Homo sapiens: one gene and its partner. The protein of the gene in region 1 purifies or fractionates together with the protein of each later gene. This does not show direct contact. Each region holds a gene or a part of one and is shown in the gene's direction. Other genes may lie near its edges.

Region 1 (3,751 bases):
CACTGTAATGTACAGTCAAGCATCACTTAACAACAGGGGCACATGTTCTGTGAAATGCATTCTTAAGCAATTTCATCATTGTGTGAACCTCATAGAATGTACTTACACAAATCTAAAGGCTGGGTGTAGTGATTCACACCTGTAATCCCAGCACTTTGGGAGGCAGAGGCAGGGAGATCACTTGGGTCAGGAATTCAAGACCAGCCTGGCCAAAATGGTGAAACCCCATCTTTACCAAAAATACAAAAATTAGCTGGGCATGGTGGTGTATGCTTGTAATCCCAGCTATTTGAGAGGCTGAGGTGGCAGGATCACTTGAACCTGGGAGGCAGAGGTTGCAGTGAGCCAAGGTCTCACCACTGCACTCCAGCCTAGGCGATGAAGTGAGACTCCATCTCTCAAAAAAAAAAGTACTTACAGAAATCTAGATGGTATCGCCTACTACACCCCTGAGCTATATGGTATGACTTATTGCTCTTAGGCTATAAATCTGTATGGCATATTATGTACCGAATACTGTAACACAATGGTATTTGTTTATCTAAACATAGAAAAATTACAGTAAAAATATGGTATAAAAGATTTAAAAATGGGGCCAGGTGCAACGGCTCAAGCCTATAATCCCAAGGCTTTGGGAGGCCAAGGTGAGAGGATCACTTGAGGCCAGTAGTTCGAGACCAGCCTGGGCAATGTAGCGAGACCCCCTATCTCTATTTTTTCAAAAATTAGGCACAGTGGCACACACTTGTAGTCTTAGCTACTTAAGTGACTGAGGTAAGAGGATGCTTGAGGCCAGGATTTCCAAGCTGGAGGCTGCAGTGAGTTATAATCATGCCACAGCACTCCAGCCTGGGTGACAAAGTAAAACGCTGTCTCTAAAAAAGAAATTTAGAGAAAAAGATTTTTTTTTAAAAAAAAGGTACACTTGGAAAGGCAGCTCCATTATAATCTTATGGGACCATGACTGTATCTGTGGCCTGTTGTTGACCAAAATGTTGTTATGCAGCACATCACTCTACCTTCAGGTTCATCTGTTTGTATCTCCCACTAAACTATGAGCTTTGGGGTGGCAGTGTCCGGTCAGTCTTGCTCTCTCCCTTCTGCTAGCTTTGTTTCTAACACTGTTCCTTTATATAATGAGACCATGATAAGGATTTCGCAAATGAATAAACTGACTTCCTCCAGGGCAGGAGTCTTGTAATATTTATCTTTCTTTTTCCAGTTCCTAATATATAATAACCACTCAATAATTACTAGTTAAGCAAATGCATGCCCTCTTCTTACTATATCCCTGTGAGTCCAAAGATCCATGCTCGGTTTCCTATTTCTGATTAACTGAGTCACCTTTAGAAAAGTAACTTTAAGCCTCAATTTCCTTCTCTGTAGGATGCAGTAATACTTCCTCATCTGACTACTTGGAACTTTTTAAGCAAAAATAAACTATATGGGTAAAAATTACTCAGCTTTTACCATGTGCTAAAGGCCTGATGTATATTAAAGAATGTAATCCTCATAACAAACCTTAAAGTAGGTATTGTTATCCCCATTTTACAGATAAGGAAACTGAAGAACAGAAAGTTTAATTAACTTGGCCAATACCACACAGCAGGTCAATGTTCCAGATCTGAACCTAGGGGCTCTGATCTGAACCTATGCGTTGTGAGTGCACTGTAAGGAGCTCCGGAAACGTGATGTGGGGCTCTACATTATCTTTATCCCGGCCCTTTCACTCCATCCCCGCTCCCGCGACTCGGAGTCCGCTGCAGTGCGGTACCTGTGCTCTAGGCGCTGCCCTAGGAGCCAGGAGCGGCAGATACTGCCTCCCCTTCAAGGCCCTCAACGGCGGAAAGAGCAATCGCTGCATACTGATGACAGGGAACAGCCACCTCTTCCACAACCCAGGGCTCTGTGGTCTCCCTCCTCCGCCAAGGAAAAGAGAAGCACTTCCGGGTCGGGCAGCGGGAGCCCCGCCTTCTCTGGGGACCGGAGCGAACAGAAGTGCGCCTGCGTTGCGACTCCGCTTTCGCGGGGGCTGCTGGGGCGTAGGTGTCGGGGACGCGCGCACGGGCGCGCGCAGCTGTTGACGCGCTTCTTAGCTGGTGCGCGCCGGAGCCCAAATTCCAAGTGGAAACTGCAGGCGCACGAGGGAGGAACGCGTGGAGCATGAAAAGGCAGGGGGCCTCCTCTGAGCGAAAACGAGCGCGGATACCGTCCGGGAAGGCCGGTGCGGAAGGTGGCGGGGGAGGGGACGGTCGGCCGAAGGCTCCCCGGGGCGGGCCGGCGGGAGTCGTAGTCAGTGGTGATTTCTTCTGGAGTCGTTTCCTCAGCTCCTTCCAGCCCCTTGGGCGGCACCTTCTATCTTTGAGGCGTTAAAGGTGTGGAAACGGAGGGCGTGACGAGGGGCAGGTAGCGAGAATGGCTCAGCTGTGGAGCCAAGGTTCGAGTCCCGGGGTCCCCTCATAACGGCCCTGCGACCTTGTGCAAGTTGGTTAACTTCAGCTTCACGTTTTTTCCGTCGCCACACGAGGATGCCAGTACCGCCCGCACCAGCAGCCAGTACTCCGCTGGGATAGTTAATTGTCGAGCGCGGAGCCCAGTTCCTAACCTGCAGTTACCTGTAGCTGCCACGGCGGGGACGGGGCTTGGTCCCCAAAGTCACGCAGCTACCAAGTGGCCGAGCTTGTGGCTGCTCCAAGACCCGAGTTCTTCCTGAGTGCCAGGGTAGCATGGCATGGCAGGTGCCAGAGAATTTGGCAAGTCCCTCTTCCTCCGTGAAGAGGAACCTTCCTAAAAGTTATCAAGAATCCTCAAAGATTTTTTCTTTATGTGGATTACATCTATCTATTTTGACTGTATTAGAAATTAAAACAAATTTTTTTTTGGGAGGCCGAGGGGGACAGATCATCTGAGCTCAGGAGTTCGAGACCAGCCTGGCCAGCATGGTGAAACCCCGTCTCTACTAAAAATACAAAAATTAGCTGGGCATGGTGGCAGGCGCCTGTAATACCAGTTACTCGGGAGGCTGAGGCAGGAGAATCACTTGAACCCGGGAGGCGGAGGTTGCAGTAAGCCGAGATCGCGCCACTGCACTCCACCCTGGGCGACAGAGCGAGACTCCGTCTCAAAAAAATAAAAATAAAATTAAAACAAAATTTTAAAATATTGATTAGAAAATAACCATAGTAAACCCATTACATATTGACATAATATTTTTTTGAAAAAGAAATATTCCTAAACAACAACAACAAAAAAAGCAAAAGAGTGGAAATATATTTTTGCAAGTTTCTTCAGTATATCTTAATGGAAGACAGCTGGATTCTCATGCCCGCTGCTTCATTCAGTCTAACATGTCAAGTAGCCTCTTGAAAACGCCTCTTCACGGAGGTTGCAGTAAGCCGAGATCGCGCCAATGCACTCCATCTTGGGTGACAGAGTGAGACTCTGCCTCAAAAAAGAAAACGCCTCTCACTTGTGAGAGAATTAAAGTGAAAAAGTCAAATAAAGTGTTAGAATTATTAAGAAAACGGTTGTAGCCCTGCAGACTCTGAAAAGTCTCAGAGGCTCCCAAAGCTCTCTGGACTACTACACTTTGAGAACTGCTGCTGCTTCTCCTTTGATCCTATAACTTTGTTGCTTGGGACAACTGCCTTGCTCTGCCTTCTGTCATAGCCTTTTTTATACATCTCTCCATCTTCTCCTGCCTAGGGTCCTTTCTTGTGTGAGGCAAATAGTCCCCCGGCAGCATCAGCAT
Region 2 (3,751 bases), on another chromosome or scaffold:
GTTAAGGTTACTGCAAGAAAAGGTAGCACAGTCAAGAGGGATGATTAAGAGAGTACTACTTGCAAAGGTATGGGTAAAATTAAGGGACACCAGCACGGGGTGGTGGTGCATGCCCCTGGGGCTGGCAGTAGTGGGGAGCCTCAAAGGGCAAGTGAAGGAAACCTGGAGAGAGTTGAAGCTGTGTCTTAGAGGAGGGCTGGACAACAAGAACTACAGCCATCACTAGAGAAACTCTGCCACTGCATAGCCAGCTGGATGGTCGGAAGAGGGGTACCCTGTTCCCTCTGCCCTCTAATCTCCTGCTGGTACTTTCCATTGGTTGAAGCCAACTAGAAGCCAGAGGGCAAGGGAGCTTGGCTGCTCTCCTCAACAGAGGTCAGCCTCCTAGGGAATAGGGCAGGGTGGAAAAGGGTCGAAAGCAGATCTAGAGGGGGCAAACAGAGAATGTAAATATCTAACACAGTGGGAACAGAGGGAAATGTCTTCAGGGATAAAGCTGGGTTGTGTTTTTTTGTTTGTTTGTTTGAGGCAGAGTTTTGATCTTGTTGCCCATGCTAGAGTGGAATGGCACTACCCATGGGTTCAAGCGATTCTCCTGCCTCAGCCTCCTGAGTAGCTGGAATTACAGGCATGAGCCACCACGCCCGGCTAATTTTATATTTTCAGTAGAGACAGGGTTTCTCCATGTTGGTCAGGCTGGTCTCAAACTCCCGACCTCAGGTGATCTGCCTGTTTCAGCCTCCCAAAGTGCTGGGATTACGGGCGTGAGCCACCACACCTGGCCAAAGCTGGCTTTTTTAGGGCCCAGATGTGATATGCTTATTTCTTTTTTTTTTCTTTTTTTTTTTCGTTTTTTTTTGTTTTTGAGACGGAGTCTCTCACTGTTGCCCGGGCTGGAGTGCAGTGGCGCGATCTCGGCTCACTGCAGCCTCCGCCTCCCAGCTTCAAGCGATTCTCCTCCCTCAGCCTCCCAAGTACCTGGGATTACACGTGCCTGCCACCACGCCCAGCTAATTTTTTGTATTTTTGGTAGAGATGAGGTTTCACTATGTTTGCCAGGCTGGTCTCAAATTCCTGACCTCGTGATCTGCCTGCCTCAGCCTCCCAGAGTGCTGGGATTACAGGCGTGAGCCACCACACCCGGCCGATACGCTTATTTCTTTATAGCATGTAATGACATAAGCACATAACATCTACATGTCAAACTCAGATTAGCCAAGAAAACTAAATCTAAAACTTTAAAGTATAAATTGCTCGATATTTTTAAGGGTGAAATAACGTATCTCAGCAAGAACAAAGATGCCATTGGAGTGGTCAAAGGAATTTGTACCTAAGGGAATTTCCAAACTGAATTTAATGGGCTGCCGTGGTCTGCTTGGATCTATGTTCTTTTCTTTTCTCTTTTTAAAATAATGTTGCTTCAGATATCCTAAAGAAGGATATTGTAGGAGGTGGAACGTTTCTGGTGAAAGTAACTGTACAGTCTTTTTAATCGTTGTGTTTGGGTTCTGCCCTGCATTTAGGTATTATCCTGCTTGGTACAGATCGCTTCAGTCAGAAGATCCCTGTTTAACAATGCAGAGAGGGCCAAGTTTCTCTCTCATCTTGTTGATGGTGTTAAACGAATACTGGAAAACCCACAGGTAAGTTTATCTGAGAATTTACATATGTATAGGATTAGTGTATGGCCAGCTGTTATGAGTCAGAAGGAAATCCATCCCAAGGCCCAGTAAACAATTCAGTCTGTTCTTCAGGGAAGACTGAAGTGAATCTCTATTTGTAGGCCAATTCTGAGATTATTTGCCCAAAAGAGGAGCTTATATCCTCCCGCTTCAGAAATGTAGGAGTTACAGGAAAGAATCACTTCGCTATAAGGAAATAAGGAAGAAGCTAGTCATTTTTCCCCCCAAGAAGTTAAGACTCTAACATCTCCGGGCACAGAGGCTCACGCCTGTAATCCCAACAGTTTGGGAGGCCAAGGTGGGCAGATCACTTGAGGTCAGGAGCTCAAGACCAGCCTGGCCAACATAGTGAAACCCTGTCTCTACTAAAACTACAAAAAAAATTAGCCGGCCATGGTGGCACGTGCCTGTAATCCCAGCTACTCGGGAGGCTGAGGCAGGAGAATCGCTTGAACCCGGGAGGCAGAAGTTGCAGTGAGCCGAGATCATGCCATTGCACTCCAGCTTGGGCGACAGAGTAAGACTCCGTCTCAAAAAAAAAAAAAAAACTAACATTTGGTTTTTGATTTTGTTTACCATTTTTAAAAAATGTTTATCGGTAACCTAAGTATATAGGGCTGCTTTTAGGTGGGAAGGAAGATACTTCTTTCAAACGTTAATTTCATAACTCGATTGCCCTTTTTGTCTTTTGAAGTCCCAGTGATTCAGTATTTTTTTGAAAGTATCACTTCTCTATACTAGAAGAAAATTAAAAAGCAGTTTATTTCAAAATATACTCAGTTTTGTCCCTCTTTTTAAAATTCATTTATTCATTCAACAAATTACATTGAATACCTACTCTGTGCCAGGGATACACGGGTGAACAAAACAAAGTCTTAGCCCACATATGCTAACAGAAGAAGACATATCAGGAAACTTACAATTAAATATACTGGTAGAATAGATTTTAAAATAGCTGTAATATTTGCTATATCATATAAATACTACTATATGAATAAATTACAGTAAGTGATATAAATATATGAAACATTTGTATAACTTTGCTAACTATCGGTTAGTTGTGCTGAATGATCAGTTTGACAGACGTGGAAATGAAAATTTCATTAGATTTCCTTTGATTGGTAACAATAAGAAAACAAGTCAGTCACGTCTTAGGTCGTGCCCACTTCTGCTATAATGAGCTTTACAGCCTCAGTGTGATCCTCCTGGGCTTCTGTTTCAAACTCTGTCCATTGAGGCTAATAATGTCATCTCATGTGATTATTATTGTGAACATATGAGATAATAAATGTGACTGTCCCTTTTCAAAGTGACTTTAAAAAATTGTTTCTGAACATTATGCAGACGTATCATTCTGAATCATGACCTGCAGCCCAGAAGTTAAAAAGTAGATTCTACCCCTTCCCCCATGCCATCTCAAGTATACATCATTCTTGAAGTATGTTAAGGCACATTTTACATTTTATTTTTCTCCTCTGCTACTGCCAGAGTTTATCAGACCCAAACAATTACCATGAGTTTTGCAGACTACTGGCCCGATTGAAGAGTAACTATCAACTGGGAGAATTGGTAAAGGTGGAAAACTACCCTGAGGTCATCCGATTGATAGCCAACTTCACAGTGACCAGCCTACAGGTTTGTCTTTGATTACTTGTGTCTTCCTTCCTAAATACTGGAATCTCTTGCTTGTTGGTTTTAACCATGTAAGAATATATTTTTTTTTCTTGGCAAAGGTAACCATAAGTCCAGTATAGCCCTACAGAGTAGTTACTATTGTGGCCTGTGATTTACATTTACACAAGTGCAAGTAGTGTGGGGAGAGGAACATGTGGGAATTACTAGGATAATATTTAGATTCATCCCAGAGAGAATTAGCTCATAGTCACCCCAAAAAAGCCAAGGTCGGAACAGGGAGCTAGACAGAAGAGTAAAAAGAGAGTTGATGCCCTCTCTTTCTTAGTCATGTAATATAGAACAATGGGTCTCAAATTTTATGGCTTGTATCACAGTCATCTAGGGGACTGATGAAAAAATATAGATTCTTGAGTCTTATCCCCATAATTTCTGGT

The links. The genes of interacting proteins can lie anywhere in the genome.
Region 2: the proteins of CUTC (region 1) and XPO7 purify together in Homo sapiens (co-immunoprecipitation; 2 studies listed by BioGRID and IntAct, with this or other methods). This does not show direct contact.

What each region holds. Positions count from the first base shown.
Region 1 is NC_000010.11:99,730,186-99,733,936, forward strand, and holds the start of CUTC (copper homeostasis protein cutC homolog), read left to right. Parts: upstream 1-2,048; 5' UTR 2,049-2,163; coding exon 2,164-2,224; intron 2,225-3,751. Other genes in the region: heme A synthase COX15, read right to left, coding at 1,775-1,864. UniProt on the Homo sapiens protein: May play a role in copper homeostasis. Can bind one Cu(1+) per subunit.
Region 2 is NC_000008.11:21,978,561-21,982,311, forward strand, and holds part of XPO7 (exportin-7), read left to right. Parts: intron 1-1,523; coding exon 1,524-1,643; intron 1,644-3,170; coding exon 3,171-3,317; intron 3,318-3,751.